Regions from separate parts of the Homo sapiens genome. Here region 2 is linked to region 1. The links come from fine-mapping of genetic effects on gene expression. A gene starts in region 1. The other region holds a variant in brackets. All regions are shown on one strand. Distances are between the middles of the regions. Region 1 holds the start of RTF2 (replication termination factor 2). Region 2 overlaps RTF2 (replication termination factor 2).

Region 1 (4,393 bases):
GGGTTTTATCAGCAGCATTTGGGGAAGCAGTTAAGTCAGACGGGCCTCATCGGAGACAGCCCCTCATCTTATACTCCTTTTACTCAGCAGCTATGAGACTCTGAACAAAGACAACTTGCACATCTGAGTCTTGGGGTTTTCATTTGTAAAACAAGAGGGATTATACCTTCTAACTCTTAAGGTTATTGTGAGCCCAAAGTGAAAAAATGCCTACAAATCTCTCAGTGCACGCATGGTCATGGCTTAATAAAGAGCCGCTATTTTTGTTTTTTCTTCCCCAAATGAGAAAAGAACACTGGTTTGAGTCTTTCTAAAGATGCTGGTGTTTCTGCTCTTCTGTATTTGACTTTCTTTCCTTTGCTGTGAGAAAGAACTAATCCTAGCACTCATTCCCGGGTCTCTCACTGCCTATGTGACCTTGAAGGAGTCATTTGATCTTTCCACGCTTCTGTTTCCTCACCAGTAAATGGAATTCTAATAGTACTAACCAGTTTTAGTATCTGCCAAAACTAGGCTTTTCACCCCTTTCTCAATGAATCTGTACTTTCTTTTGGTTTACTGAGGAAATGTACTCATATATTGAGTGTGCCAAAGACTCTTCTAGGCACTGATGATACAATGTGGAATAAAAGTCCTGGCCGGGCTTGGTGGCTCACGGCTGTAATCCCAGCACTTTGGGAGGCCGAGGCAGGTGGATCACCTGAGATCAGGAGTTTGAGACCAGCCTGGCCATCACGGTGAAGCCCCGTCTCTACTAAAAATACAAAAATTAGCCCAGCATGGTGGCGGGCGCCTGTAATCTCAGCGACTGGGGAGGCTGAAGCAGGAGAATCGCTTTGATCCTGGGAGGTTGAGGTTGCAGTGAGCCGAGATCACATCACTGCACTCCAGTCTGGGCAACAGATCGAGACTCTGTCTAAAACAAAACAAAACAAAATGAAGTCCCTACCCTCATAGAGCTTACAGTTATTGTGGTTAGCATAGAAATAAATCATAAATCAATCAGAGACCAACTAATTAAAGGGATTATTTTTTAAAATTCTCATTAATCACAGTAACAAGTACCCCAAGCTTACATATAGCCCTTGAAGTTTCCACATCCACGTATTTTCTGGGCAACTCTTCCCAAGTAAAAAATATTTTCAGCGTTTTTATGTTTCACGTAGGTCAATAGGGTAATATCCAATCATAAAGATCTGCCTTCTTGGCAATGGAGAAATTTTCCCATCATATATATGTACAAATACATACATACATACATACATACATATTAATGACAGAGTCTTGCTCTGTTGCCTAGGCTGGAGTGCAGTGGCATAATCATAAGCTCACTGCAACCTTGAATTCCTGGGCTCAGGCAATCCTTCCTACCCCCTCAGCCTCCGGAGCCGCTAGGACTACAAAAGCTTACCACAACGCCTGGCTAATTTTTCTTTTTCTTTCAAGATGGTGTCTCACCATGTTGTCCAGGCTGACCTGGAACTCCTGGGCTCAGGTGCTCCTCCCGTCTCGGCCTCCCAAAGTGCTGGGATTATAGGCACTTTCCCATAATATTTATAATAATTAAAGGAACAAACAGAGAGATAGACAATCGCCTAAGAGCAGACAGACAATCATGAATTTTTAGCAAGGGATTTGTGTTCTTATAGATAAAATACAGCCTGACTCTTGGAACGGGCATGGCAACATCAGTGTATATTTTATAAGAACTATTATATCGTCTATTAATGATACTTGATTGTTAATAAAATTTTTTTAGCCTGGGCTTCAGGAAACTGTGAATGAAATACACACACGCACAAACTGTATGCAAAATTTCACACACATGCCATCTACAATATGCATGGCAACACCAGAAAGTTCCAGGCCTTAAGGGAGGGTCTTACTTCCTAGAATCTGTTGTAACATCACTTCACAAGATTTGTTGTGAGTGCTTGAGTCACAGTTGGCGCTCAAGAAAGATGCGTTCTCCTTTTAAACACAAAAATGTCCATTGATACAGCAGATTCCGTTCATAGGCATCCTTAATCGCAGAAACAGGAGGGCGGCCCTTTTCCTCAAGGCGCTCTCAGTCCAGGGATGTGCCCGCTCCGCAGCCACACAAGCTGGCGTGGGATAGGGTCAAAGAGCGGTGGATGCGCACGGGCCGCCCACGCCCTCGCTGCCCTCCCGGAGCGTGGGCGAGTGATTCCGATTGTGCAGCAGAAACCCAGGGTCTCACGGGAACGAGGAAACCCGCCCACGCCCAGCCTCCAAGCGACGCTCTCCATGACAACCGGCACTTGGTAACGGCCTCGCCCTGCCCCGCTACGCCGCGCCTAGCGTGCCGCCCCGCCCCGCCCCGCTACGCCACGACCAGCGTGCTGCGTCACGGCGGTGCGCCGGAAGTGGCTGCGGATTTCGCCGGAAATCCCGGAAGTGACAGCTTTGGGGGTTTGCTGCTGGCTCTGACTCCCGTCCTGCGATGGGTTGCGACGGGGGAACAATCCCCAAGAGGCATGAACTGGTGAAGGGGCCGAAGAAGGTTGAGAAGGTCAGTGATGTGGGCCGGCTCTTGGCGACCGGGGGTGGTGGGAATTTGACGACCCCAGAAAACGAGAGGAAGTAAGAAGGGGGAGCCAGCGGAGTTCCAGACCTGGCTGCGGTCTTTTATTCCATTCAGAGGACTCAAAATTAACAACAGTATTAAGAGTGGACATTCAATGGGTGCTGACTATTGCCATTCACTGGACAGTAATCTTAACAGGGGGTATCTCATGTAATTATCACAATAGCCCTATAGCTACATACTGTTGTCCTCATTTTCAGACATGGAAGTTGAGGCTCAAAAGGAGAAATTTGCAAAGCTAGTAAATGGCAGAGCCAGGATTTGAACCCTACCTGCGACTAGTAGCAATAATACAAATACCTAGTGTATACTGAGTTTTGTATACACTAACTTCATTTGCTCAGAGAAGCCTTCCCAAACTGTTCCCTTACCACATCCTTTTATAAACTGTCTTAGCCTGCACACGGCTGTACGTGGTTGATTTGTATCAAGTCTTCCCCGCTAGACGGTAAGTTCCTGATAGCAGAGGCTGTACCCTTTTTTTCTCTGCAACTAGCATGGTTCCTGGCACACTAAATATTTCGAATAAACAAATGAGTGAATAATCCCTGATCTCACAAGTAATCGAGGAAATTATAATAATTTCTTTGCTACTGACGGGGACATTGAGTCCAGGGATATTAAGGTGACTAAGATCACACAGCTGGTAGGTAGTGAAGCCAGGATTCCCATCCACTTATTTGGGATTTCAAAGTTAGCACAAGTAATTACTTTTTAATGATAAAATATTTGTAAAGCACCTAGTAGAGACTTCTTTACAAAAATATTTGTAAAGCACACGTGGAGACTTCATGTATTCTGATTCAGGAGCTGGAGAGCTTGTTTAAAAGGTAAACCCCTTAAGTCACTATTGTATTTGAAGCATTCCAGTGGCTTCCCATCACATTAAGAATAAAATCTCGTCAGACCCTTGAGCAGACCTTGCCTATGTTTCTGACCTCATCTTCTGCCCCTCTCCACCTCTTTCATACTGTTCTAGCTAAACAGGCCTCTTGTTCTTCAACCTGGAGTGTGAGTTCATCAATCTGAAATACTCTTCACTGAGATTGTCACATGATGAGTTTCTTTACTTCATTCAGTTTTTTACTCAAATGTCATCTGTCCACTGTAACTGAAATGTGCCTCACTTCCAATATTCTCTCTTCTCTTCTTAACAGTGCCTACCACTGTGTTGTTTATTGTCTCTTTCCCACGTAGACAGGAACCTTGTGTGTCTTACCTCTGTAACCCCTACCATGTGTCAGCCACATAATAGACACCTAATAAGTATGTGTGAATATGGGAATGAATGAATACCCAAGAGGATGAAGTGTACCCTCTGATCATACGTACATGTAAACAGGCGAATGCTGGATAATTAGCATTCATGAGTGGTTTTTTGGCTTTCACCAAAAAAGTGTTTAGCTCAGTTTTGTTTTCTTGTGCCCAGGGCTGAAAAGGAGTAGCTTAATGAAAGGCTTGACAAGAAACAGGTGTCGGAAGAGGGTAGAAAAGAAGGAAGAGCGATTCAAAAAAGCCAGAATGCCTAGGCAGGATGGATTTTTATTATAACTATTCACACAACAAATGCTTAATAAGTGGTTACCATATATACATTGTTGTAGGCCCCAGGGATATAGCAGTGAACAAGGCAGAGTCTAGCCCTGGTGGAGCTTACATTTCGGATCAATATTGTGAAATCTGCCCTGGTTCCTAACGCAGAGCACCTAAATTCCTTGTAATTTCCTGGGTGACGGGATCATCTTTTGTTCTAATAAGGCAATTATTGGTGGGCTCCTGGATGGG
Region 2 (4,393 bases), 50 kb after region 1:
ACCAAAGCAGTTTGACAGCTTTGAAAAAAAGTTAGTGGAATGTGCAAGATTTAGTTGGTGTTTATGCTGGCTGGACTTCACATACCCATATATACTCTGTGTTACTCATTTAAGTGCGCTTTTGTATACAGTTGTCACCATCAACATTGGCCCTTATTACTGAAATCTGTCAGCCTCATTTAAATTTTTGCAAATGTGATTTGGGAGATGTAAATATAAAAGTGAGCAGCTCTGTGCAGATACATTTTTGTGTGAGGCAGAAGTGCATGACTGGTGTCACATGCAGAGGGTGAAGGCTTTAGGAGTTACGGAACATCAAAAGCCTTCTTCAGAGTGACTGTCTGTCTCATGTGACTAGCATCGGTCAGTCAGACAGGGCACCCGGGACAATGGGCAGCCACACTGACGCTGAAGTGGAGTGAATCTGAGCACAGCCTCCAACATTCTCTATCTTTTTGTAGAAAACAAAGAAACCCAAGGCAGCAGAGTCTGTTTCAAAACCAGATGTCAGTGAAGGTAAGATCCTTCAAGAGATCCTTATTTTAGCAAAATGCGACTCTAGGGCAGTCTGCTAATATGTTCATGCTTTGTTTTGCATTGTTTTTGCTTTGCCTACTTTGTTTCTTTTACAGAAGCCCCAGGGCCATCAAAAGTTAAGACAGGGAAGCCTGAAGAAGCCAGCCTTGATTCTAGAGAGAAGAAAACCAACTTGGCTCCCAAAAGCACAGGTGGGTCCTGTTGTAGCTACAGGGAGCTGTTTCGAGAAGGCTGGAAACCCAGGTGGCCGAGTCCAGGTTTCACTGGAGTGGGTGGATGGGAAGCCCAAGCCTGTCCTATGTCATGTCTCTAGAGAGTGCACTGAACTCTCTTTAGGGGGGTAACTAAGAAATATTGAACACACCCTCATCAGGAGCCGTGGCAGGAGTGATGGGGTCTGGGCACAAATGCTGGTTGTTTAGATTCCTGTCGAGTAAGTGCTTGGTGCCAAGCAAAAGAGGTTGCGCTGAGAACTGGCTCAGATGTTGCACAGAGACTGTCAGATGGACTGTGGCTCAGGGCCTGCGGGGAATGCCCCCAGTTTCTTTACTCTTGGGGCTTTCATGGGCTCCACGTGTGGCTCTCAGAGTCCCCTCTCTGCTGCCTCTTGACCAAGGATCAGTTTCTCCTAAAACTCACTCTCTGTAACTCAAAGAAAATACCATTTATTTCACAAAAAGAAAAATACAGATTCATTGTTAAGAGTGTGTGATCTTGTGCTCTAAGTAGCATCCAGGGTGGCTGACAGGCTCCCATCCCGGCTCTACATGGGACAGCCACTCAGGTTCCTGTGCCCATTTCCTCCCCTGGAACGCAGGCCCTGCCTCATCAGGACAATCTAAGTCATTCACGGGGCTGGGACCAGTGTCTGCGACAGAGCAAGACAGTAAATGATAGATGTGTTGTGCTGTGTCTGCTTTGCTGGAGTTGGCAATTAAGATGACGTCCGCCAGCACTCACACAGCCAGCAAGAGAACGTCTGGGACAGAGTGACTGATGGGCTTCCCTTCTGAGGATGCGAAGTTTAGAATCATCTTTATCCCAACCCTGACAGTTTTGGCTCTTCATTTTTCTAGCAATGAATGAGAGCTCTTCTGGAAAAGCTGGGAAGCCTCCGTGTGGAGCCACAAAGAGGTCCATCGCTGACAGTGAAGAATCGGAGGCCTACAAGTCCCTCTTTACCACTCACAGCTCCGCCAAGCGCTCCAAGGAGGAGTCTGCCCACTGGGTCACCCACACGTCCTACTGCTTCTGAAGCCCGCACTGCCACCGCTCCTGCCCCAGAAGGTTGTTTAGTTTCCACGTAGGCAGGTCGCTTTGTGCCTCTGAGTGCGCTGCTGTGTGTTCTCTCTATAGTTCTGTGTCATAAAGCTGTCCTGGCCAGCCTTCAAGCTGGTGTGGCCACTCTTGATGTGAGGCGTGTCGGTTCCAGGGGGGACATGGGAGGGGCTGCACAGTGGCCCGAGGTCATGCTTGCTTCCACCTGCAGGTGCATTTGGTCCTTTCCATGGCCAGGAAGCCCTGTGGGCTGCACTTTTTATGCTTGCAGTAACAAGAGACTCCAGAGTCCTCACCGGTGCAGAGTTGGCACATATTAATTAACTAAAATTCTAATGATCTTGCTACCAGCAATAAATCAAGTAGGCCAAGTGAAACTGGGCTTTAAAAAGGATGGATTTCAAATACACTGTGCCCACTAGAAGCTTCGAAGGGCCTCGTCCCTCTGCTACAGCCCTGGGAGGAGCCAGGATCCTTGTTGGTCTAGCTAAATACTGTTAGGGGAGTGTGCCCCATCTCATCATTTCGAAGATAGCAGAGTCATAGTTGGGCACCC[A/G]GTGATTGGGTTCAAAAATAAAGCTGGTCTGCCTCTTCTCTCCTCTGTGTTTTTATCTTTTCTACCTTCTGCTCATGCTTGGGTAAGAACATTGCAGCCGTTGCATTGGTGATTACAGGAGTCATTCCATGAAGTCAGAAGAACCCACCCTTCTCTCCTCCAGCAGATGGTAAAGGGAGAATCGTACCCAAAAAGAGGTGCATTTTATCTGCCTATAAGTTGTGTTGACGTCAATAGCTAGTGAAACTTCTCATGAGACTCCTAATGAAGAACCAAGAGCCACAGGCCTCTGCGTGGCTTTCTGCACACGGTGGTATGACTGAGATAGTGACTGGTTCTCTATACAGACCCCGGGGCCCTGGGTTTCCTTCAGAAGCAGAAGGAGCTGTGGGAGGTGAATGGTGGGAGGTGAACAGGCAGGTTCTGTGGGAGACACAGACACGTGGGCAGAACTCCAGGGAGAGGCCAGCAAGGGAGAACCATGTGTGGCCCTGCTTTTTCTCAAACCCTGTGTGGTTCCCGGCTTCACAGTTGATGGGAAGGTTTGGCCCCAAGGATATTTTGACATTGTGAGTATAGAGCATTTTAATAAAAATTAAGTGATGCGTTTTTGTCATGGACTTTTCCAGAACAAACCTGGATTAGCCATTTAATTTCCCCAATTTTCTATACAGCCAAACTCAACCATTTTCTCATTGTTTTTATTTCCCCCTTTTTTTTTTTTTTTTTTTTTAAATTTTGAAACAGGGTCTCACTCTGTCATCCAGGCTGGAGTGCAGTGGCATGATCATGGCTCACCATAGCCTTGACCTCCTGGGCTCAGGTGATCCACCCCCCTCAGCCTCCCGAGTAGCTGGGATTATAGGTGCGCACTACCGCACCCGGCTAATTTTGCTATTTTTTGTAGAGATGAGGTTTCGCCATGTTGCACAGGCTGGTCTTAAACTTCTGGGACCAAGCAATCTGCCCGCCTCGGCCTTCCAAAGTGCTGGGATTACAGGCGTGAGCCACGCTGCCTGGGCCCCCTTTTCTTTTAATGACCATTATTTTTACCAGGTTCGGTTTTCTGAATGTTAGCCTGAATCAGTTTTATTTTGCATTGAATGTATTGACTGTGTCCAGTTTTTTCTGGTAACTGAGTCACAGCATCCTCAACACAAAAATTACAGCATCTCAAAGTCCTCTGCTTTGGGCCTCTCTGAAATAAACAGGCTGTGGGCCTCCCTCCAGCTGCCCTCAGGACCATCCATGCAGGAGGGATCAGGGTTTCCTTGGAGATTTCTAGCCAGCCTTTAATATTTTGCTAAGGCACCACTCTTCAAGGCTCCTGGCCAGCTTGAGGGAAGAAGGTATCCATGATCTGTGCTCCTGCTGGGCATGAGGCCTCAATACACCAACGGCTGGGGAGGGCTGATCATTCGCATTATTTTTAGGGCTCACTGAGCAGCCAAGCACTTGACAGGCTTCTTCCCCTGGGACTCCCCAGCCACCCAGTGCAATGGGAAGATGGCCATCCCCCACTTTATAGGTGAGGTGCCTGAGGCCCAAAGCAGCAAGGCGAATGACAGTTCTGCCTGGCCACACCGCACCTTCTCCCCATTCAGTCCGTACCAAATGAAGGAATCAGTGGCGGCTGGGGCAGGCTCCCACCCAGGCGCCGAGACCACGGGTTCAGGTGCTGTGCCCAAGAGGAAAGTGGGGCATCTCCTAGCTCTCCCTCCTCCTCCGTCCACCTCCAGGACCCAAGCTGCTTTCCACCAAGGAGGGAGCTGGGAGGAGAAAATTGAAAAGATGTTGAAATTCTCCAAAATAGCATCTATTCAATTTCCCACAGTATCGGAGGAACCAGCCCCCAATATTTCAATGTAGGTTCTTTTCTCTTTTCCCTAAGCATCGGCCGGTCTGAGAAAGAGTACAAAAGAGAGAAATTTTACAGCTGGGTCTCTGGGGGTGACATCACGTCAGCAGGTTCTGTGTTGCTCCCGAGCCGCAAAACCAGCAAGCTTTTATTAGCAATTTTCA

What was found. PIP is the estimated chance that this variant, and not a neighbour inherited with it, causes the effect.
Region 2: its variant is the best candidate, but not a certain one, in a credible set for the expression of RTF2 in lung (TOPMed, PIP 0.79).

What each region holds. Positions count from the first base shown.
Region 1 is chr20:56,466,234-56,470,626 of GRCh38, forward strand. RTF2 (replication termination factor 2) reads left to right here and starts at 2,394. Exons shown (of 9, transcript NM_016407.5): 1 at 2,394-2,533. The coding sequence starts at 2,465.
Region 2 is chr20:56,516,474-56,520,866 of GRCh38, forward strand. It overlaps RTF2 (replication termination factor 2), which reads left to right. Exons shown (of 9, transcript NM_016407.5): 7 at 462-516; 8 at 633-728; 9 at 1,614-2,976. The coding sequence ends at 1,792. It also overlaps the pseudogene GCNT7. Among named protein-coding and RNA genes, the nearest start is that of FAM209A, 6.1 kb to the right of the region's middle. The variant A/G (reference allele first, on the strand shown) is at 2,372.